Linked DNA regions of Homo sapiens: all the other regions are linked to region 1. The links come from fine-mapping of genetic effects on gene expression. A gene starts in region 1. Each other region holds a variant in brackets. All regions are shown on one strand. Distances are from middle to middle. Region 1 holds the start of ABCC8 (ATP binding cassette subfamily C member 8). Region 2 overlaps ABCC8 (ATP binding cassette subfamily C member 8). Region 3 overlaps ABCC8 (ATP binding cassette subfamily C member 8).

Evidence for each region.
Region 2: its variant is fine-mapped to the expression of ABCC8 in tibial nerve (GTEx, PIP above 0.99). The same link has a PIP of 0.9 or more in amygdala and nucleus accumbens.
Region 3: its variant is fine-mapped to the expression of ABCC8 in thyroid (GTEx, PIP 0.96).

What each region holds. Positions count from the first base shown.
Region 1 is chr11:17,472,813-17,480,394 of GRCh38, reverse strand. ABCC8 (ATP binding cassette subfamily C member 8) reads left to right here and starts at 3,550. Exons shown (of 39, transcript NM_000352.6): 1 at 3,550-3,766; 2 at 5,368-5,509. The coding sequence starts at 3,619. It overlaps LOC124902641 (a long non-coding RNA gene), which reads right to left and starts at 3,744. Exons shown (of 2, transcript XR_007062609.1): 1 at 3,664-3,744. RefSeq lists an enhancer at 4,338-4,894.
Region 2 is chr11:17,427,477-17,435,058 of GRCh38, reverse strand. It overlaps ABCC8 (ATP binding cassette subfamily C member 8), which reads left to right. Exons shown (of 39, transcript NM_000352.6): 11 at 2,815-2,855; 12 at 4,100-4,245; 13 at 6,389-6,494; 14 at 6,654-6,770; 15 at 7,117-7,192. It also overlaps the pseudogene SDHCP4. Among named protein-coding and RNA genes, the nearest start is that of KCNJ11, 43 kb to the right of the region's middle. The variant G/T (reference allele first, on the strand shown) is at 4,601.
Region 3 is chr11:17,417,730-17,425,311 of GRCh38, reverse strand. The region is part of intron 16 of ABCC8 (ATP binding cassette subfamily C member 8); the gene reads left to right. Among named protein-coding and RNA genes, the nearest start is that of KCNJ11, 33 kb to the right of the region's middle. The variant A/G (reference allele first, on the strand shown) is at 2,725.

The DNA.
Region 1 (7,582 bases):
CTGACATGGGGCAGGATGGAGATGAGACAGGAGATCACTTCTCCCTCCCAGGTTCCAGTTAAGACATTTTGTCTCTACATCAGTCCTCTCTTTCACTGGTTCTACAGTCTTCCAAGTTCCCCTGTGGATACAGGCTTTGAGCACCTGAAGGAGACAGGAAAGGACACACCTTTCCCAGTCAGTAAGGGTCACCCGAACTTAGGCTCTGTACTTGTTCTCCACTATTCCATAGTATAGGTCACACCATGAGTTTTGCTTTTGTCTGTTTTTAACCAGGCCGCTGTTGATTGTGGTTATTGAAAGGGTTTATTTCTTCAACTATAACCCCACTCCATTACGTCACCATTGTCATTGTAATGACCCCCTCTGCCATGGTCACTGGAACACTGGCACTCCTAGTCAGCCAGATAGAGACAAAGGCACTAAGGCCAGAACAACATCAGAGCTGGAAGGGACTTTTTGTTTGTTTGTTTTGTTTTGTTTTGTTTTGAGACAGGGTCTCTCTCTGTCGCCCAGGCTGGAGTGCAGTGGCCCGATCATGGCTCACGGCAGCCTTAACCTCCCTGGCTCAAGGGATCTGGAAAGGACTTTTCTGAAGCTCTGCACCAGCCCCTTTACTGCACCCTGCCTGAGGCCACACCCACCCAGTAGCCGGTGAGTGTGAGAATCCAATCCCGGAAATCCAGCCCTAGTTTTCATTTTGCCAGGAGAATGGCTGGGAATTCTCAGAGCGGGGTACCCTTGCTCAAAGCAAGCTCTCAGAGTCTGACCTTCTTCCAGCCCCTAGCAAGAGAAACAAAAGGCATGGCTAGAGGTGGGGAAGCACCAGAGACCCAGCATCTCCCCGACAGAGGCAGACGTAGCCCTGTTACAGACATGAATGATTTTGTATGCCACACACCGCTCTGCGTCTGTGTCTTGGACATCTTCCCCTGCCAGTAAGCATAACTCTATTCTCTGCGCTTGCTCCACAGTATCCCACAGTACAGACAATATCTGTTTTTTGTCTGTTTGGGTTTTGTCTGTTTGAACCAGCCCCATACTGATGAGCATTTGGGTTGATTCCAGGAATACAACCCATATACTACAAAGGAAGTCCTTTCATGCCTCCGTGCGCACCTGACTCCACACTTTTTCAAAGTAATTCTCCCACCCACATGGTGGGCAGTGTGGTGCATGTCCTCAGTGTAGACCTAGGTGCAGGGAAAGGTGGAATTTGTCCACAGTCACACAGTAAGTTTGTGCTAGAGATGGCAAACACGAGTCCCCAAGACTCCAGACTTAACACTCTCTTAGTCCCAGTTGATGCTCCCTTAACACCAGACTTTTTGTTTGTTTCAAATGACCCAGAATAGGCAAGTGTGAGGGTTGCACCAGGCAATGTGGGGTGAGGGAGAGACCATTAAATAACCCTGATTGATCAAGGGGCTGCCGTGTGTAGTCACCCATGGGATGAAGTAGCTTGGACTATCTCCCCAACTTGCAAAGCACATTCATACCCATGATCTCATCTTAATCTTCTGGGTTCCATATTATTATCTTTTCCATTTAGAAATAAGGAAACTGAAGTGCAGAATGGTAACCTGCCCCCAAATCACACAACTAGTAGTAGTAGAGCCAGGACTAGGAGCCCTGTTCTTTAAAAGTAAATATATTATTACTGCTAAAAAGAAAGATAGCATTGCTGAAAGTGTGAAAAAACTGAAATTGTAACTACAAAAGAAAATAACAACATTGCAGAAAATATGAAAAAAAAAAACCTTGAAAGCAAGAAAAACAAACTAAAAGAAAAAATCTTACTGGGTGACCATGGACCTGTCATCTCATCTCTCTGAACCTCAGTTGTCTCATTTTTAAAGAAAGGGAATGAGGATAAGCACAGCGACGGCAGCCAGTACATACTGAGCACCGCCTTACCAAATTTCCAAGTCTGACCTTTCCCTGCAGGCTTCATGCAAGTATACATATTTCGTACGGCTATAATCATGGGAAGCACAATTTTGTTTGCCGTTTTTCACCTGACACTATCTTGTAAAGTTTTTCTATTGACTACACAGACTCAGCTAGCACCGTCCCAGCAGTTGCATTTTTCAAGGTTGATTAACCCCTGTCCCTGGTGCTGGATATTTCTTGCCACCAAGTTTTCACTATTTTGGCTGATGCTGCAAGAAACATCTTTTGGCTTCTGAGAAATTCTCCAAAGTCAGAGACTGAGGCATTCAGACCCTGAACTCCTGCTTTCCCAAGGCTTTTCACCCAACCCCATCTGCCCTCTGCCTCAGGGCCTGGGCAGAGCCTCGGCCTTGCTGACAGCGTGCTGGAGAGGCTCACCAGGCTCAGCAGCCTCAGGGCAGGCTCAGTGAAGCTTGTAGGCAAAGGGGCTGAAGGGGTCTTTCTTTTGTGTTCCCCTGACTGTTCCTAAGAACATGTGCATTTATGCTTCATACCCTAACTAGGAAAGTTCTCCTTAAATCTAACCCCCAAATCCCATCTTCTGTTCTTTCTACATACAATATAAACTTCTTTGGGCCACAGTCTTGTGAGAATCTCTCCAAAACGTATAGGAAGACATAATGTTGTCTTTACAATTGCACGGTGTCCTCCAACTGTTAAGCCTGTCCCAGGTGAGGTTAAGAATTTCAGTCCCTCTCCACTGCCTCACATCCATCTGGCCAGATGCGTTTCTTAAACTCCTCTTTATCAGCCTGGGGCTGTCACCCATTCTACCCATTGGTCTGCCAGTCGCTGTAAGGTTGTCATGTACCAGAGGCATGAGTACAAATGATGGGGGTGGGGACGGGGGACCTGAGGAGCTGGGTTCAAGCTATGCTTCCCTGCTTGCTGGCACTGAGACCTTGGGGGAAGTCATGTTACTGGCCTCCCTTCAGCTCCCTCGCAGCTTGGGTTTCCCCATCAGAAAATTGGAAGCGATTAGAACCTGTACTTAGCAAGAGTTCTGGGACATCCCTTGTGTGAAAGTGCCAGATACGCTGTAAAGCAGTACCTAGGAGTGCCCCACCTGGGACCACTTTTGAAAATGTCCAAGCCCCACCCCACCACCACCACCACCACAAGGTAACGTTCTGCCCCACTTTTCTCATCCATGTTGGGTGGAGACTTGCGCCATCCCTCGGCTCTCTACATCCATCCGCACCACGCCCAGGTGAACTCACACTCGGGACCCTGAACCCGCCCACTCCAGGCCTTGCGGGCCCTTCTCTCCTCTTCTGCACGCCCCACCCTCCTTTCCCACCCAGACTCCAGTGTGCCCACACCCCACTCCCCATCTTAGCCTGCCTTTCCCCTCTCCCCCAGCGCACGCGTGCATCAGGGCACTCACGAAGCCACCCCGGCAACATCTGGGAGCACGCGCCTCCACATCTGGAAGGTGGGCGCAAGCGTAGCAGGGCCGGTCGGGTTCCTCGCCGCCCCCCGGCCCCGCAGGTGGTGGAGCAGGGCGGGGTGAGGGAGGGGGAGGCCAGCGGGGCTGGGCGGGGCCCGGGGGGCGGGGGCCTGACGGCCGGGCCGGGCGGCGGAGCTGCAAGGGACAGAGGCGCGGCAGGCGCGCGGAGCCAGCGGAGCCAGCTGAGCCCGAGCCCAGCCCGCGCCCGCGCCGCCATGCCCCTGGCCTTCTGCGGCAGCGAGAACCACTCGGCCGCCTACCGGGTGGACCAGGGGGTCCTCAACAACGGCTGCTTTGTGGACGCGCTCAACGTGGTGCCGCACGTCTTCCTACTCTTCATCACCTTCCCCATCCTCTTCATTGGTGAGTGCGCGCAGCGAGCCGCGGAGGAGGGGACGGGAGAGCAGGGAGGGAGGAGGAGGCGCTGCGCGCCGCACCGCTCGGCGTCCCCTTCCGGCCCGCGACCGCCGTCCGCCTCGTTCCCGGGGTCCCCTGCCCTGTGTCCTGCCCGCCGGTCCCCGCACTCGCACACCAGCTCATCCCTTCACTCCCCCGGTGCCCCCGATCCCGCGCCAAACACAGCGGACGTTTGTGACCCATGGGATCACCAAGTTTTGCTTCTGCAGGGCCAAGAGCTGGGATGGGGAAAAGGGAAAGAGGAGGTCTCAGCACGCAGTGGGAAACTGGAGAGGGGTCGGGCCTCACCCTCCGTGGCGCAGCTTAGGGAGCCGGGTCACCCCTCCCGCAAGGCAGCCTCCCTGTCAGCCGCAGCTGGGCCTAGGGAAGAGGGAAGCCTGTGCTTTGGAGTCTGGGATGGAGGCCCAGCTAACCCCTATGCTTTCACCGGGCTGAGCCGCGCAGTGGTCCGTGATCTCTGACAGTCCCAGGCCCGCGCCCTGGGCGAGGAGAGGCGAGAGCTAGGGACTTGGATTCCCTTCCCCCGCCACCCCACCCGGGCATGTGTCTCCAGAGCGCAACTTCTCAGGCTCTGCGCAAAGTAGCTCCGACTCGCCGACGCAGCGACCCCGGCGCCCTTGCTTGCAAAGTTGGGCGCCACGGCCGGGACAATCGTGCGTGCCTCTCCACTGAGGTCCCCCCCATCTCTCTCCAAGACCTTGACTCTTCCAGACCAGTCAAGTCTATCAACTCATAGGGTGTCCCCTGCATCCCCAAAACGTGTTCATTCACTTTAAGAAAACAAGCAAATCTTAAAATTCATATACAGCTTTGGGGAAGAAAGGAAAGATTGTCACAAAATTAGATTTACAAGAGGTTGCTGCAGAAGCAGAGTTGCTAGTTATTAACAAAGACAGTTAGATAGAAATAGAAATAAAACATACAAAATATGTGCTCATATGTGCATCAAAAATCAAAAAAGAACAGCATTTACACTTCTGTTCTCAGCCAAACGGTTTATTAACCTGATGACTTGTCACACAAGAAGTTAGTATGTATAATGGGGTACCTTGGCAGGGCACAGTGGCTTACATCTGTAATCTCAGCATTTTGGTGGGCTGTGACAGGAAGACTGCTTGAGTCCAGGAGTTCGAGACCAGCCTGGGCAACATAGTGAGACCCCCCCCGCCCTTTCTACAAAAAATTAAAAATTAGCTGAGCATGGTGATGTGCGCCTGTAGTCCCAGCTACTCAGGAGGCTGAGGCGGGAGGATCACTTGAGCCTAGGAGATCAAGGCTGTAGTGAGCCGTGATCGTGGCACTGCACTCCAGCAGAGGCAACAGAGCAAGACCCTGTCTCAGTAAAAAGGTGTGGTGGGGGAGGTACCAGCATAGGACCAGGCTGAATGAGTTGGACGTTTAGTTTGTGTGTACCAGCCTTGGGGATCCTCATGTGTAGGTGTCACCCTCACCATGGACCCAATGCCCAAGCACCTTTCTGGGGTTCATGCACCCTCTTCCTCCTCCAAGTGGGCAGGCATCCTGCCTCTGACTGTCTCTCCCTGCAGGATGGGGAAGTCAGAGCTCCAAGGTGCACATCCACCACAGCACATGGCTTCATTTCCCTGGGCACAACCTGCGGTGGATCCTGACCTTCATGCTGCTCTTCGTCCTGGTGTGTGAGATTGCAGAGGGCATCCTGTCTGATGGGTGAGTGACTGTCTGAGGACTCAGGAAAGTGAATCTGCTCCAGGGTACTTCCTGAAAGGCCCAAGGAGATCCTAGCTCACCTATATTCCACAAGCCCATGTCTTTTGTTACTACATCCAGCAGCTCAGTGTCTTCTATGTGCCAACCTCTCTGAGCTGGGCACTGGACGCAAGTGAGTCCCAGGCCCTGCCATCAGTCCAGGAGAGCAGAGGGAACACGGACCTGCATGCCAAGTCCCAGTGAAATAATGCTAGAGCCTATTAGAATGCCACAACTCCAGTGAAAAATGTCTGGCCTCTTCTACAACCTGCCGGAGTTACCTTCTTGGAAAAAAAAAAAAATCTAACCATGCCACCCACTCTTGCATAAGACCTTTCCTTGGTTCTCAGCTGTTTTGAAGATGTGGTCTCAGATCCTCAGCCCACCATTCAAGGTCTTCACAGTCAGCCCCACCTATCTCTGGCCTCATTCCCCATGCCCACCTTCCGTTTGGGCCTCACAGCACACTCCTCACACCTCTGCTACAGCACAGATCACACTGTATGTTAAAGTTTATGTCTATTTGCAAAACTGTCTTCAGAGTCAGAAAGGCCTAAGAGTTAGAATCTGAGTCTTGTTCATCTTTGTGTTCACAGTGCAAGGCATGTGATAAACATAAACATTATTCAGTCCATAAACATTTATTGGGTCCTTAGGAGAATGAATGAAACCATGTTACAAATAAGTACTCTGGGAGGTGAGAGGAAGGCAGAATTGGGCAAGCTCCATGGTTGAGAGGGCTTTGGAGCGGAGTCTGGAAGGGTGACTAGGCTTCAGACACACAGAGGAGGAAGGAGAGAGAGAACTGGTGGTGCCTGAGGGAAGGGAAAAGGCACCAAAGAGAAAAGCAGGTAGGGCTAGGGAGCAGCGCAGGGGCTGGAGCATTAAACACAGGCTGGGGAGCGATGGAGGCTGAGGCTGGGAACCCAGGTTGGGGCATCTCAGGAGGACTGTGAATCCCAGCCTGCATGTTTGGGTCGGATTTGGTCAGCAGTTTGGAACAGAAGAGAGATGTCATCAGCATAACACTTTTAGGTGGGAACCTGAGGTGTTCAGCGCAGGCTGGAGGCAGGGAGAATCTAGAGGTATAATAGAAGCAGGACTTAGCATTGACTGCAGTAGTCTAGGTGAGCAATAACTGCAGACAGAAATGGTGTGTCAGCAGTCAGGGACAGAAGAGGAGCGGGAGCAGCCATCTCACTAAGGAAGAATCCAGTAACCAGCAAGGATGAGAGACTGCCAGGAGAGGGAGTGGTGGAGGAGAGGGATATTTGGCTTGAGTATCTGAGGTCCAGCGCCCCCTGAGCTGGAATCAGATTATACCCAGACTGCACTCCTGCAGTGCTGCCTGGCTCCTGTAGTTGGATGGCAGGGGATAGGCTCCCTCATCCTCCCTCCCGTTCCCCACCTTCCCTTCCCCAATGTCCCTGCATCCTGGCTTCAGCAGTGATCTCTAAAATACCTGCTTGACTTGGAGGCAGCAGCTCTGCCTGCTTATTAAAGTCCCTAGACCAGCAAGAAGACCAGAAGGCATACTGCTACACAAGCACGTGACAAGTCCGCCTCCACCCCCACCCCTACACCCCTTCCAAAGTAGCACAAATGCCACAGTGAGCCCTCAGATGGGAAATACTCACCAGATGGTGACAGAGAAAGACACCTCCGCCCTTGGAGAAGGAAGACCTGGGTCTTCAGTGAGCACTGCTGCTGTGTACCAGCTATGGGACTTTGCACAAGTCATTCAGGCTTTCTGGGCCTCATAAGCATTTATAAACATACGATAAAACATTTTAGTTGCCAACTTAAAAATGTGTGAGAAAGTATAAGGTGTTTCAAAATTATTTCAAGGAGTAAAGAGGCAAGAGTTTTGAAGATCCCTGGGCAGGGTGTTGGCTGTTCCCAGTGTGGCCATTCATGACTGCTCTCTGGCCTTATGAAACAAGCATCATAGTCCCTGGCTTGCCTGCTTCATGGGGCTGTGGAGGGTGAAATTCGAGCATGGACAGGGTGCAGAGCCCGGAGTGGCAGAGCACT
Region 2 (7,582 bases), 45 kb after region 1:
ATCATTGAACATATTAAAGGTTATTTCTTTTTCTTGCAAAACACACACACACACACACACACACACACACACACGCGAACACACGCAGCTGATGATTCTACTCTCCCAGCCCCAGCCCTGAAGGGGACCCAGAACTCCCTGCACAAAGGCTGTCCTTCAAGGGGAGGGTGAAAGAAGTGGAAAATCACATTTTCATTCTTTAGCGTCTCCATACAACAGCCAGAACTGGGCAGAAGCTAATTATATCAGAAGCATACTCCATGTTGCTGCATCAGCTTTGGGATGTTCATTTTTAAATTTATTTATAGCTTGTCTCATTCCTCAAAGGAGTTCAGGGAGCTACAAAAATAAAGACAATAAAATTGAAAAAAATTAAATTAAAAAAACCATGACCAGGGAAAATGTGCAGTAGAATGAAGTGTCAATTATCACGTTTTCTGACTGCAAAATCTCCCCCACGGCTGATGCACCATCATTTACTACAACAGCCCCTCTTGTTGGACATTTCCAGTTTATTTCGTTTGGGATGGTTTGTTGCTGTTGCTGTGGTTGTGGTTTTGTTTTATTGAATTTTGTGTTAGCTGCAGCTAATACCATCTTGCTGATGGCTTTGCGCTGCTCTTGAATGATTACTCAGGATAAATTTCCTGGAGACGGATTATAGGATCAGAAGGTCTGAACTTCTGTGTGGCTCTAGCTACAAAGCACCAGATTGCTTTCCAAGAGCGTTGTAGCAATTTATAATCCAACACTCAGCCTATTTTTTGGCTGGGAGTCAAGCCCCAGAATGTGAAGGAGGGGTCTTGGCCTGGAGCAGGGGCTGAGGGATGGGTGCACAGGACCCCTCCTTATTGGTTATTTATGGGGATGGGCCAGGAGGAGCAGAATAGAGGCCCCTGCCCTCCCAGTTGCTCCTTGGAGTGACTGACCCCATAGGGGAGGGGCGAGGCTACCTCACATTTAGAACTATGTAGTTGGTGATGGTCAAGGTCCTAGGTCTGATGGGCATCCTCCTCCCTCTCCTCCTCAGCCAGTAATGGCTGCACTATGTCGTATGTCCTAGATCTGGGTCCCTTTTGCTGTGGGAACACCAATAATACTTACGCTGTTTCCTGCCGGAAACGGTGCAGGAGGGCTGTGGCATGGTAGTGGGCCCTGGAAACCATCTAGCCTTCATGAGGAAGGGCAGTTAAAGCACAGGCATGTATGATGTTGGTATTGATTAAAAGCCTCACGGGCAGAGAAATTCGCCATCTGCCAGGGCCCCAGCCATACGAGGGCTCCAGCCATACATCCTCCAGGAGACTGGGACCTCTCCAATTGCAGGAGCCTTGCCTTCCCCATCAGATTAGGAATTCCCCGAGGATGGGGACAATGTCCTTCCCACCTGCTTGAGAACTCCTAAGGGGCATGTACTCTGTCTCCCCATTGTATCTGGAACTTCCTGGGAGCATAGCTCCTGTCTCCGTCCTCAGACTGGGAATCCCCTAAGGGCAGAGGCCATGTCCTTCCACCCACTTGGGATTCCCTGAAGTTGGGGACCACATCTCTGATGTACAATGCTTTGTATGTACTGACTGCTGCAGGATTCTTGGAGTAAATGGGCAGTCAACTTCTTGGACTGGTATTGACCATCTGGACTTCATCAGAGTGTCCAAGACTTTGCCATTCATTAGACAGGGGCCATGTGCACAGGCAGAGCCCTGGCCTCTGGCTTCTGGCTCCTGACTCCTGGTCCCTCTGCTTTAATTTGGCTAATGGCAGAACCAGACTCCTTTCTGGGCTGCCCTGGAAGGGGATCCTTGAATGAAAGAGGATAGATGGGAAGGTGGCAGCTGACATGGTTACCTCTTATGCCATGGGGGGGCTGCTCTCTCTGGAAATTTAGGCCTGGGGTCAGGGCACTGTTGAGCATTTTACACCCTAGGCCAGAGGAGGGGTGACCTGTGGAGCAGGGCTAAGCTAGTAGCCCATGAGGTATGATGTGTAGGCAGCACCTGGGGCTCACAGAGCCTGTTACCCATGTTATCTCCTCTGACCTTGGAAAGAGCTGGGGTGTATGAACAAGTATTTATAAGTTTACAAAAATCATATGAGGAAACTGAGGCACGGGGAAGGTAAATGACATGCCCTAGGTTACACAGCTTATAAGTAGCAGGGATTCTGCCCTTCTGTCACACCAAGTCCCACTGTCTTTTCTTCCTGGAGTCCCTGTGACTGATCTAAAGGCCACATGTTTAACAGAATAAGGAGGAGGCCTCTGTTGCAGCAAACCAGCTACCCCACCCGCACACAGACTCTAAGGGACATCCTGCTTTAAGCTGTCCTTAGTTACTAATACCTCAGTGAGAATGAGTTTGAAATTTTCTCAAGAGCCATGGGAGACTAGGAAGTCTCTAAGCTTCATAGAGAGCCTGGCTTGGGGGGACACAGGAGCCAAAGGCAGAGGAAGAAGTGGCAGCTTTGTGCCCCCAGAAACACGTGCTCCTGACCTCACAGTTGGCCACAGCCAGCCAACTCTCCCATCCTTCTCCCACCACTTTCCCGTGGGGCTAACTTCACCCTGTCCACACGGAGTGACTTAACAGTTTAAGCCCCAGAGTCGGGGGCCGGGGTACCTGGGACAAGAGTCCTGAGGGAAATGGGGTGAGGAACTGGAAGTGCCACAGGGCTAGAGTTCTGCCCCTAGCCTACTGGAGCTGTGCCCCACAGGCTGGCCCCACTGGACTGCGCTGCCTCCAAGCCATCCTGGGCATCTCCATGTGTAGCTGTCACGCTCCTCCCACTAAACGCCTCCCTGTGCTTCCTCTGCAGTTTTCATGAACACGGCCATCCCCATTGCAGCTGTCCTCATAGTAAGTGGATCCTTTCTCCATCTCTTGGGGGTAGGGTGGAGGGGGAGGGCGTCTGCAGTGACAGGCTGCCCAGATTTGGCCTTTCTGCACAGGGGCCTCAGAAGACAGGCTCCACAGCCAGACTGAAAATAGGATCGAAAGTTTATAGAGGGTGTGGCCCCTCCCCAACTCCAGCCGAACAGGGGCCTCTGCCTCCAGGCCTGGAAGACCGGAGGCTTAGTATTTAGAGAAATTAAACTTTCTTTTAAAAAATAGCTATCCAAATTTTTAATTTTTAAAGTGAAACATGTGTATTGTAGAAGTGATGGGAAATCCAGAACAGAAAGCTCAAAGAGAATTAAAATCACCCATAATCCCACTGGTAACATTTTTAATGTGTTTCTTTCCAGTCTTTTTTTAAGGCCTATGATATGTCATTTTCTACAAAAATAGGAATGTGCTATGCATGCAGTTTTGCAACCTGCTCTTTTAAATTTAGGAATATGCCACACACAATTCTCCATGCCACTGAATATTATGATGGTGGCTTTCTAAAGCAATTTTGATAAAAGCTGTGTGTGAGCTGAGCCATGGGGGTCAAGCAGCATGCTCCTACAGAAAGGCCTGGGCCCCTACGAGCCTGCAGCCCCCTCACCCAGCCTCCCATCCCCATCTTCTGTGATGGCTGCAGTTCCTTAAAAAGATCTGCTTATTTCCCCCGGGGCCAGTGTCCCTGAGCTGTGTAGAGTTCACAGCCTGTCGGATACACTTGGGAATTCACTTCCAATGTGATGTATTGAGCTGGTTCCTGGCCTGGCTCCTGGGGGAACTGTGGGTAACAGAGGCCACTGAGCCAGCCAGGTGGCTGGGGCAAAGCACTGTGCAGTTTCGTAATCACTCTGTTTACGTTATCCCGATGAGGACTGGGGAGATGAGCACCCCGCCTGCTGTCTGCAGAGGGGGCCGTGCTGACCTAACCCGAGATCTCCTCCCTGCTTATTCCCAGCCAAGACTGGGCAGGACAGGGAGTCTTGGCCAGGACAGGGAGGGAGCAGCCCCTGCTCTCCAGCTTGAAGTCCTGAACTTGTTGGGGACGTTTCCATGAGATGACTGTGGGGATGATGAAGGTGTCTCCAACTAAAAGATCCTCTTAGGAGCCTGCTCCCTGACAGCCCTCTCATTTCCCTTCCAGTGCTGAGCGTTTCCAGTGTGGGAGGGACCCACACCCTGGGCCACCCTGGCCTCACTTGTGCCTCTGTCCACAGACTTTCGTGGGCCACGTCAGCTTCTTCAAAGAGGCCGACTTCTCGCCCTCCGTGGCCTTTGCCTCCCTCTCCCTCTTCCATATCTTGGTCACACCGCTGTTCCTGCTGTCCAGTGTGGTCCGATCTACCGTCAAAGCTCTAGTGAGGTGAGGGGAGGGTCCGGGCGAGGGCACTGGGCAGGCAGGTCCTGTGTCAGCCTCAAGGCTTGCTCGAGTGATGGCCAAACCACAGCTGTTTGGTCCCGGAACACACCCCCATTGCTGGGCCTTGCTGTAGCTGGTCCTGGTTGGTCAGAGGGACATTGGCCTGTATGGTTTCCCAGCTCGCCATCCCTGAGCAAGGACTTGCTTACATACCTCCCAGGAGAGGGGACTCACTGTCACTTTCACGACAACTTAAAAAAAAAAAAAAACCAGTGTTGAGCCAAATGTGGAATCCTCCTAAATTCTACCCACTGGTCCTAACTTCACCCTCCAGAGCCACCAAGAATGAGGCCATCCC[G/T]TCCCCACGTGGCTGCCCCATGGATATCAGAAGGCATCCACTGTGTCTATCTTTCCCAGGCCAAGTATCCCCTACCCTTTCCACAGCCCCTGAGCCCTCACAGCCTCAGCCAGTGAAACAGCTTCCCCCAAGCGCTGGGTCCTGCTCTGATTGGCCCACAGCTCTTGGAGGCTCCCACTTCCAGGCTCTAGAGCCTCATGGGGACTCTGCCACTGTCCCAGAGGCATTGCCCTCTTGGGAATGAAAGCCTGAAGGTAGAAGGCTGAGGCTTTGGCTGGGAAATGCCCTGTCTGGAGTGAGAAGATGTCCTTGGGCCTCTGAAGTAGCTCTGCCTCCTTGAAAGCAAGAGCCTGTCATGCCTCTATGGAGGGCTGGCTTGTCCTTACCCATGGCCAGAGAACCAGTCAGTAACAAATGTCCTCTGTGTCTTCAGCCTTGAGGAAGGTGACACCCCTGTCTCATGGGACCCTGGCAGGTACTGGGAAGCTGGAAGGAAGGAGTAGCTGTTGGAATGAAGTAGCTGATAGAGAGGGTAGCTTGCAGGGGGAGACTCTAGCATGGGTTCAAAGATGGAATGGGGCATAACTCAGCAAAATTATGCTCTAAGGAGTATCTGACCAGGCAGTAGCTGGTTAAACAGGGATTAGCTCCCATTTCCACAGTCGGCTGTGCTGACTCAGTTTCTTGACCAGGGTGTTGTGGGGTCTGAAGATCACCCCTCCTCCCACCACCCACTCTCCAGCCCTATGATTCTGTGTAGAAACCACAGATTTAAGAACGCTGCACCTGCCTGAAAACTGTTGCACTGATCCCAAAGCGTTCATATTTTCAAACACTCTGGATCCCACTGTTTCCAGGAATGGAACACCAGAGTAGCAGAGGCCTTTTCAGTGAGGCAGCTCAGGCTCTGGCTGAAGGTGGGCGCAGGACACTACCTGAAGCTTCACCCCAAGAGATGAGGGCCAGCTCCACTCTTCCCAGTCACCGCCTGTGGGGGAGGGAGGCTGGACAGGGCATGAAGGCAGAGCCTGGTGGTCTGCCCCTCCCATCTAGGGGTGGCGCACAGAAAGGGAGACTCCAGGCCACAGCTCACTTACACCCCAGAATAACCTTGCCTTGAGGGTGGGATGGCTTGTCTGCCCCAGGCCTGTTGGACATTTAGCAAAAGAGAAGAAAGGGGAATACAAACAATCCTGAGCTTCCCAGAAAGCTTTCACACCTCCAGGATGGGAGAGAATGAACTAGAAGAGTGAAGCTTCCAGTGCTTCCTCAGGTCCACAGGGAAATCTGGACAGGGGAGAGGGTAGGAATAGCCGCCTCCCCCGTGAGTAATGACACCTCCTCCAGCAGGCTGTTATGGGGATCCGATTACATAATGCTACAAAACAGTTAACACAGTGTCTGGCATTTAGTGTATGCTCACAAAATACTAGCTATTGATTCTTTACCAATCCTAGTCCTAACTAACCTTAACCCTGACCAATCCAACACCAACCATCCTTCAGTCTAATAACCCAGACTAACTAACTTCAACATTAACCCTAAAACTAACCAATCTCACCTCCAATCCAGACCCCAGCCTATTCCAGCTGACTGGTCAACCCTAGCAAACCCTGGTAACACCAATTACCTGCCCCCATGCCCACTGGTCTGCCCCCTTCAGTGTGGGCTTTGTGGGACTATACTTCAGGCCTGAGATCCTGCTCAGAGCTCTCTATCAGGCTGCGCCCTCTCCCCTCCCCTCTGCCCCTGGCAGGGGTGAGGGGTGTCTCTGTGCTTCCCGAGCAGCGTGCAAAAGCTAAGCGAGTTCCTGTCCAGTGCAGAGATCCGTGAGGAGCAGTGTGCCCCCCATGAGCCCACACCTCAGGGCCCAGCCAGCAAGTACCAGGCGGTGGTGAGTGCCCGGCCTCCCCTTGCTACTCCCAGCATGGTCCTCTAAGGCCCAAAACTTGGGCCTGCTGTGTCGGACTTCTGCCTTTTTTCCCAGGAAGAGGGGCTCCCTTCCCTACACAGCTCCCAGCCCAGTGGGTCCTCACCTCCAAACCACCCCCAGCCCCTCAGGGTTGTGAACCGCAAGCGTCCAGCCCGGGAGGATTGTCGGGGCCTCACCGGCCCACTGCAGAGCCTGGTCCCCAGTGCAGATGGCGATGCTGACAACTGCTGTGTCCAGGTGAGTCCTGCTGCCCCATGCCTGGCCACCCAGCACCAACTCCCAGAGGGAGCTCAGCACCTGGAAAGCCAGAAAGCTGCATGCTTAGTCCTCTGCAGAGGTCACCCTGCCTGCCTGTACGGTCCATAGGAGTCCAGAAACCAGGGACCACCAAGTGGGGGGACCCCCAGCCTTAGGCAAGGGTCAGCATGAGAAGGCCAGTCTCCCACTCCCCTGCTCTGGAAGTGATCCAGGGGCTGGAATCAGTGTCTTTTGGCTTTCATGGAGGAGGGGAAGCCAGAGACTATTCACTGGGAACTGGCTGCCTTTCTGTTCTCTCCTGGGCGGTGGGACACGCCTAATGAAGATCATGGGAGGCTACTTCACGTGGACCCCAGATGGAATCCCCACACTGTCCAACATCACCATTCGTATCCCCCGAGGTATGGCCCAGTCCACCCCTCCAGCATGCCCCTCCCCATGTCCCACTGAATAACATAGAGATAAAAAGACAAAGCTGCATTTATTGAGCACCTACTCTCTGCTCATTCTTGGTGTATGCCCTGGGTATATTATAGAAGGGGAAGGCTACATTCTAGAGGCTTCCGTGTGCTGGGTGGGAGTGAAGCACTAAGGACAGGGTAAAATTGCCAGCCTTAATGTCAAACCATCCATTGCAGACAGTATAGGTAATGCACAAAAAGATCAGAAGTGGGTAGCCAAGGAACGCAAGTGGAAGTGATGGGGTTTCTGAGAATGGACAAAGGCCCTGAGGCCATGAGGCAGGAGGATTTTCTGGCAGAGGCAGCCATGAGCAAAGTATGGAGGTGGGT
Region 3 (7,582 bases), 55 kb after region 1:
CAAAAGATGGCAAATTTCCCTCCTCAGTGGGGTCGTGGGCTAGCAGATGAGCCCCTTGGGTTTCCCATCACCTCCCATCAGGGACTGTGATGTCTTTGGGGGCAGAGGGGTCTTTGCCTCCATTCGCCATTTTATTTGGGAGATTTTTCAACATAGCCTGACTGGGAAGGCCCAGGTATTCGGTTTGAGATCATATTGCCTTATTCCGACTGCCTCTCCAGCCTTTGGAGGGAGGAGCCCTTTTCTGCTGTCCAACTGCATGCCTGCAGCAAGAAGACAAGAGTCCCCAGTGCACTGTGAGCTGAAGAAAGTAACCAATATTTATTGGGTACCTCCTATGGGCCATGCCCTTTGCTAAGTGCATTGTCAACATGATCTCATCAAGCCTCCTACTAAGTTTAGGAGGGGAGTGTTGTTACCCCATTTCACAGAAGCAGAAACTCAGGCTCAGAGAAGTTGGGTGACTTACTAGTCAGTGTGTGGAGCAGAGACTCTGCCCATGTTCTTTCCCTCAAACCTGGTCACTGCTGGGGCCCCCAGGGCCTAGTCCTAAGGGTTATTGTCCAAGCCCCATGTAGTGGTCAGGCTGGATCTGGGCTCTCCTCCAAGGCAGGGCTTTTCCAGAAGGATTGCAGGGCTCAGACACTGGAGCTGCCCCTGCCTTGACCTGCTCAGCATGGATGTCAAAACCCACTCTGAACCTGGTCCCTTTGCCCTGCTTTCTTCTCCTCCCCCACCCTCATGCCCTCATGTGGCATCGTGCCTGCCTCAGGAGCTCTCCTTGTCCTATGTAGATGAAGCAGGCATGATTGGCAGGGGTCTGCTCTGCCCTGCCTCAGTCCCCACCTCTTCTCCAAGCTGTGCCAACCCTCCGGGTCTGACTGCTGCCCCTCTCTCTTAGGAAACCTCTGCCCCAGCCCAGGGAACACAAGGAGCCTCTCCAAGGCAGAGGACCCTAAGCACTTCTTTTTTTTATTATTTTTTATTTTATTTTAGGTTCTGAGATACATGTGCAGAGTGTGCAGGTTTGTTACATAGCTATACATGTGCCATGGTGCTTTGCTGCACCTATCAACCTGTCATCTTTTTAAGCCCCACATGTATTAGGTATTTGTCCTAATGCTCTCCCTCCTCTTGCCTCCCACCCCCCGACAGGCTCGGTATGTGATGTTCCCCTCCCTGTGTCCACGTGTTCTCATTGTTCAACTCCCACTTATAGTGAGCACATGTGGTGGTTGGTTTTCTGTTCCTGCCTAAGCACTTATTATAGGCCAGGCACTGTGCAGGCACCTCATCATCTCAGTCAGTCTGCACCGAACTCTGTGCAGTAGATATTATTATATCCTCATTTATCAGATTAGGAAACTGAGGTGAAGCAAGTTGTCCAAGGCCACCCAGCTGTTAAATGGCAGAAGTGGGATTTGCACCTAGGTGCTCAAGTGCATTGGTTTGCCACCATGTGCTCAAAGAGAAGGGGCACAAGAGCCTCATGAAGAAGGCATAGCTAGCCTGACAGTCCAAAGGCCAGCAGCCGCTGTGGCCATGACTCACACACACCTGCCTCCTCCCAGAACTGCCACGTGGGTCCTCACAGCTCTGTCCTTATCAACACTTACTCTCCTTTACAGGTAGCCTAGGCCCCAGCTCCCAGCTCTGTTCGAGGCTCGCAGAGGGGCGGTAGTGAAGGGGTCTCATTTCTCCAGGATCCTCTTTGCTCTCTCGCCCGGTCCTGGTCCAGCTTCCCTTTCAAGCATAGTGAAGTGCATTTGTTAGCTTGCAGCCAACCCTGGGAAATCATGAGAATTTGTTCCCAAGTCAACTCATTCTCCAGCGTCCACAGTGACGTATTCACTCACCCAGTTGAGCGCCTAGTGTATACTAGACCCTGTGACAGCAACAGGAGTGCAAAGGTGACTAAGACGTGGCCCCTGCTTTTTTTTTTTTTTTTTTTTTTTGAGACGGAGTCTCGCCCTGTTGCCCAGGCTGGAGTGCAGTGGTGCGATCTCAGCTCCTCACAAGCTCTGCCTCCTAGGTTCAAGCGATTCTCCTGCTTCAGCCTCCCAAGTAGCTGGGACTACAGGTGTACACCACCATGCCGGCTAATTTTTTGTATTTTTAGTAGAGACGGGGTTTCACTATGTTGGCCAGGGTAATCTCGAACTCCTGACCTCATGATCCGCCCGCCTCAGCCTCCCAAAGTGCTGGGATTACAGGCATGAGCCACCACCCCTGGCCGGCCCCGCTTTTAAGAGAGGGGAGAGAAGACCTGGGCCTTAGAAGAGCTCAGAGGAACCACAATTGACTCTGCAGTCAAGGAGAGGAGGCTCACTGCGGATGTGGTATTTGAGCCTTGAAGGATGAGTGTGGTTTCATCAAGTAGAAAAGGCAGGGATGGGAAAGGGAGGTGGTCCAGGCAGGGGTGATGGTGTGGGCAAAGCCTTGCTGATATTAAAGAACATAGTTCTGTGCACCTGGAACACTGGATGCATGGGGTGCATTATGAAAGATGGGACTGAAGAAGTGAACTTGGCTTAGATCCCATGTAGTAGGTCTGAGAAGTAAGATTTAACCCAAAGGTTGCAAAAGAACCATGCTTGTGATAAAGGATGATGGATTGGGGAAACAGAGAAAAAGACAGACAGACTGTAGGAAGGGAGGTATTAGCAAATAATCATAACACAGTGTGAGGTGTGCATTAATATTCACTCATTCCAAGTATTGATC[A/G]AGAAGAGAGGTAGGTACTGGGTTAGGAAACAGCTTGGGCAAATGCATGGGGAAATGAGAGATGTCAAGATGCATTCTAATGGCAGCCTCTTGAAGATCTTAAGTTGTTTTTGGTTCACTCATTTCGCAAATGAATTCATTTAGCAAAAGCACTATGGATACAGTGCTTACCTCTAGGAAGTAAGTTTTAGCCCAAATGCTGCAGAAGGATCATGCTTATGACAAAGGATGATGGACTGGGGAGAGAGAAAAAGAAAAGACAGACAGACTCCAGGAAGGAAGGTCAGTCTGCAGCTCCTTATAGTGGCTAGGAGAAGGAGTCTAGGCAGATACGACTCAATTAGCTTCATCTGCTGTTTGTCTCTCAAAATCTAGACATGTGCACTGCTCTGGCTGGCCCACCTATCCTGGGCATTGAGTTAAGTGTGGGGGCTGTGTGTTGAGAGTCCCCCTCCATTACTGGCAGGAACTCCACACCTCAGACATTGAGCCCCAGGTCTGCAGGGAGAAGACGTGCTTGCAAAGTGAGCTAAAAGCAAAACAGCCTCTGACCTGGCAAGCATTCCCAAGTCTGCACGCCTGCAGCCAGAGGAGAGGGTGATGCCAGGCTGCTGCTCAGATGCTTTTCAGCCATACCCAGGCCAAGACCTGGTGACCAGGCAGCCAGAAGGAGTTCCAGGAGGCACAAGGCAGGAAGTTGGGGGATTAGGAGGTGTAGAATGGAGAATGCTCTGGGGAGATGGGTGCTTTGTTGGTGCAACTATTCGTTTATTCCTCCAGTGACCACGTGAGCAGTATGGCTGCACACACAGGCTCTGCAGCCAAGCTGCCTGGGTTCACATTTGGTCTCTGTGCTTTGGAAAATTTCATAAGCTTTCTCTACCAGTTTCCCTTATTACCCATGAGATTGATGTGAGGATTAACCTAGCATGTAGTAAATATCCTATAAATATTATTATTCAATAGTGTACTTCTTTGCCAGGAACAAAATTCACCTGTTCCTCTTTAAATGTCCTCCAGTCTGTCTCCTGGGAAAGATTCTTGTGAGCTCCCTGGGGACAGGGACCATATTTTGTTTGTCTCACTGTATCCGTAGTGCTTTTTGCTAAACGAATTCACTTGCTAAATGAATGAACCAGGAACAACTTAAGACCTTCAAGAGGCTGCCATTATAATGCATCTTGACATCTCTCTCCTTTCCACATGCCTTTGTCCGAGCTGTTTCCTAACCCAGTATTTCACTACCCCTCTTCTCCATCAATATTTGGAATGAGCAAATACCGTTAGTGCATACCTCACATGGTATTATAATTATTTGCTAATGCGTCTGTCTCCTCCATGACTCTGAGCTCCTTGAGGGATTATTCCATGTTGTACCCCAGGTGCCCCATGCAGATGTGTATTTTGTGCACTGTTCTGTGTAGGCTACAAAGGAAAAGGCCTAGCACCTGCCCTTGGGGAGCTCACCCACCCAGGATGGACAGAGGTGTGCAGACAGAGCTGCAGGGTGGGCACAAAGGGTCCATCTGCTGAAGTCCTGCAGATGCAGCCCCGAGCTTGTCCCTCACGTCAGCAGCCTGGCTCCTGGTCTCAGAGAGAACTGTGTGGTTCCCAAGCATTCACTTTAGGAAGAATCACTTGCCCCTCCCTGGCTCTCTGCTTCAAGGAACTGTGACAACCTTGGGATTTGCAAACTCTCTCTTTAATCCTTAAGAGGAAAATGTTTTGGTAAAAAGTCAAGATTAGCAGATACACTCGGGTGAAATTCTTTCCCTGGAAATAAAGAATAGAGCCATTAATATCCACAGTAGAGTGACTTTAAATGCCCCCGGGGGGTCAGCAGGAACCAGGGCCCTGAGGAAAGGATCAGCGTGGGGAAGAGGCTCCCACTTCCCTGTGAGGAGCTGCACATGCAGTCTCACTGGAGCTCCCTGCTGCAATGCTGTTGCCTGTGGTGGTTGGTGTGGATGCTGCCTGCCAAGAGCCCTGATTCCCCAGGAAGAGAGAAAAAGGCTTCTCTCAGGACGGCCCTGGTCGCATCTGCCTGTACAATTCCTGGAGCCTTTGGGGAGCTGAAGTCAGGGGCTCAAGTGCCCCTGGGTTTCCTGGAGGAGGCAGGTGTGGTGAGACAGCTGACAGACAGGAGAAGGGATGCTCTGAGGAAGTGACTGTCCAGCCATGGGAACCAGATGGCCCCTGGCTGTAGTCCTGATGCTGCCACTTGCTAGCTCTGTGACCTTGAGCAGGTTACTTCACCTCTCTGAGACAGACTCACTGTCTGGACAATGAGTAAAACCCTACCTTTCCTGTCTCAGAGATTTGGCAATGGGACCCAATGACATCAATTGGAAAGGATGCTGTGGGTGAAAGGTAACCTTTCAGGACAGCGACAAGCCTGTCTGGGCAGGATGAATGGGCTGTGGAGCCCTGTATATCCTAGCTCACTCTTTGAACCTCAGTTTCCACTTCTTCCCTTTTTATTTATTGCCGGGGTCTTAAATGAGTGTTGGGGGTATCTGATTCTCCCTCTGCCTGTACTTTTGGGGCCAAGCACTGAGCTGAAAAGACAATTCCTCCTAGTTCTCCAAGCCTACAACCTGCCCCCTAACCAGCTGTGAGCTGTAATACATTCTCCAGTGTCACTGTGAGGTTTGTGCCTTCACCCCCATTTTATAGATCAGGAAACAGAGGCTCCTCCAAGTAAAGGAGCTTGCCTCAGATTTCACAGCCAATGAGTGGAAAAGCCTCTGGGATTCAAATGTCAGAGCCCATATTTTTCCTACTTCTCGCACCTGTTATCATATGCTGCCTCTTCCTTTAACCTGCAGTTCCCTCCCTTCACCTCCACCGTCTCAATCCTTCCCACTCTTTAAGGTTCAGTTCAGCTATGACTTCTTCTATGAGGCTCTACTCATTTTCTCAGATTTCTTCCTCCTCCAAATTTCTTGTAAAAATTATGTTTTTTCTCTGATTCTAAAAGAATGCACATTACATTAGAAAAGATACACAAGCATACAGAAGATAAAAACCACCTAATATCCCATCACCCAGAAGCTTCCAGTTTTTCTTTATGCATTTGCATATGCATTTGTGTTTACTTTTCCCCAAAAGTTCTCCGATACTTTGTCCTACTTTTCTTTTGACCCTTATAACTTCCTGACTTCGGTACCTTTCTGATTTGCCCTACCAGAGTGTGAGCCCCTGGAAGGCAGCCTCTGCACCCTGATTCAGGTTGCCACACATATGCCAGCTCCTAGTGGGCTGGAGGGAAGGACATGCGGTTGGGGAACTGGAAGACTCATGCTTTCAGCTGTGTGCTTCCTCCCTAGAGTGCAGGCAGAGGAGGAATCGAATCCCCTCAGCACTCTTGTAAAGACCACAGCAATGAGTGAGAGATGGTGCCTGCCAGACATACCATTCTTTACTTTTCAGCTTAAAACAGATACAAAGTTTGGGGAGGCTCACTGGAGGAGGCTTGGGGCTACACTGGAAAGAGAAGAACTTGGATTCACACCCCAGCTTCCCCTCTTCCCAGCTCTGTCACATTTGCAAACTCTGAGTCTCAGTATCCTCATGTGTAAAATGGGGATAGGGTTTATAGGGTTGTAAGGATGAGATGATGAGTTGTTTGCAAACAACTTCTCACAGTGCACAGTGAAGGTCAGCAATGAGAGCCAGCCCCGCCCTTTCTTCTTTCCAAATGATTAATATATCTGTTACCAGCCTCCATTCATTATATAGCTCTGTCATGTGCTAAGCACCATGGGGGCTGAAAAAGATGTTCTTCCTGCCTTAAAATTCCACTGGGGATGAACAAATTACACGGGAGCTGATCAGAGAGGAAGGCAGTCCATTATGAGGGCTAATTGAGCAGTGCAGACCATGTTGCAAACTGAGTTAGGGCCTGGAGAGCTTACTGTGTGCTGGGGTCCTCAGGAATGCCACAGATGCATCAATAACCACCTCTGCTACTCTGGAAGTAGTCACATCAGGAAGACTCCAGAGATAAGCTTATCTGGGCTGTGGCCACAGAGCTGGAATTTGTAAGCTTTAGGTTTCTATGTCTCATGTTACCAGCTTGTCTATAAATTGTAAATTACAGCCATCTGATGGTTAGGGAATATGAAGTTTGGTTAAGAGAATGAAATGAGACCACGAAGATTAGAGAACAGGAAAAGAGGGGACTGGGGACTACATACCCATCAGAATCTTCATTCAGTCCTGACCCTCAGCAGGAGGGGGATTTCATCAGGCTCATTTCCATCCTTGATTTCGTCCATCCTGGTTCTCCTGACAAGGGGCATTTATCAGAGTTATGGCATGGGAAATCACAGGGGAGTAATGTACCATGGCATTTAAGAGTATGAACGTTGGAGTCGGAGCTATTTTCTCCGCTACTTACTAGCTGTGTGACTTTGGGCAAGTTACTTAGCCTTTCTCTGAGCCTCACTTTCTTTATCTGTAAAGTGAGGGCGATCAGAATAAACCTCCTTCATATGGTTATTTTGAGCTTTATAAAGAGACAATACTGGCTGAGCACGGTGGCTCACTGCCAGTAATCCCAGCACTTTAGGAGGCCAAAGCTGGAGGATCGCTTGAGCCCAGGAGTTGGAGACCAGCCTGGGCAACATAGGGAATGAGACTCCTGTCTCTACAAAAAATATACAAAAATTAGTCAGGCATGGTGGTACGTGCCTGTAATCCCATCTACTCAGGAGGCTAAGGCAGGAGGATCGCTTGAGCCCAGGAGGTGGAGGTTGCAGTGAGCCAAGATCACGCCATTGTACTCCAGCCTGGGCAACAGGAGTGAAACCCTGTCTGAGAGAGAGAGAGAGAGAGAAAATACTACTATGGTGCT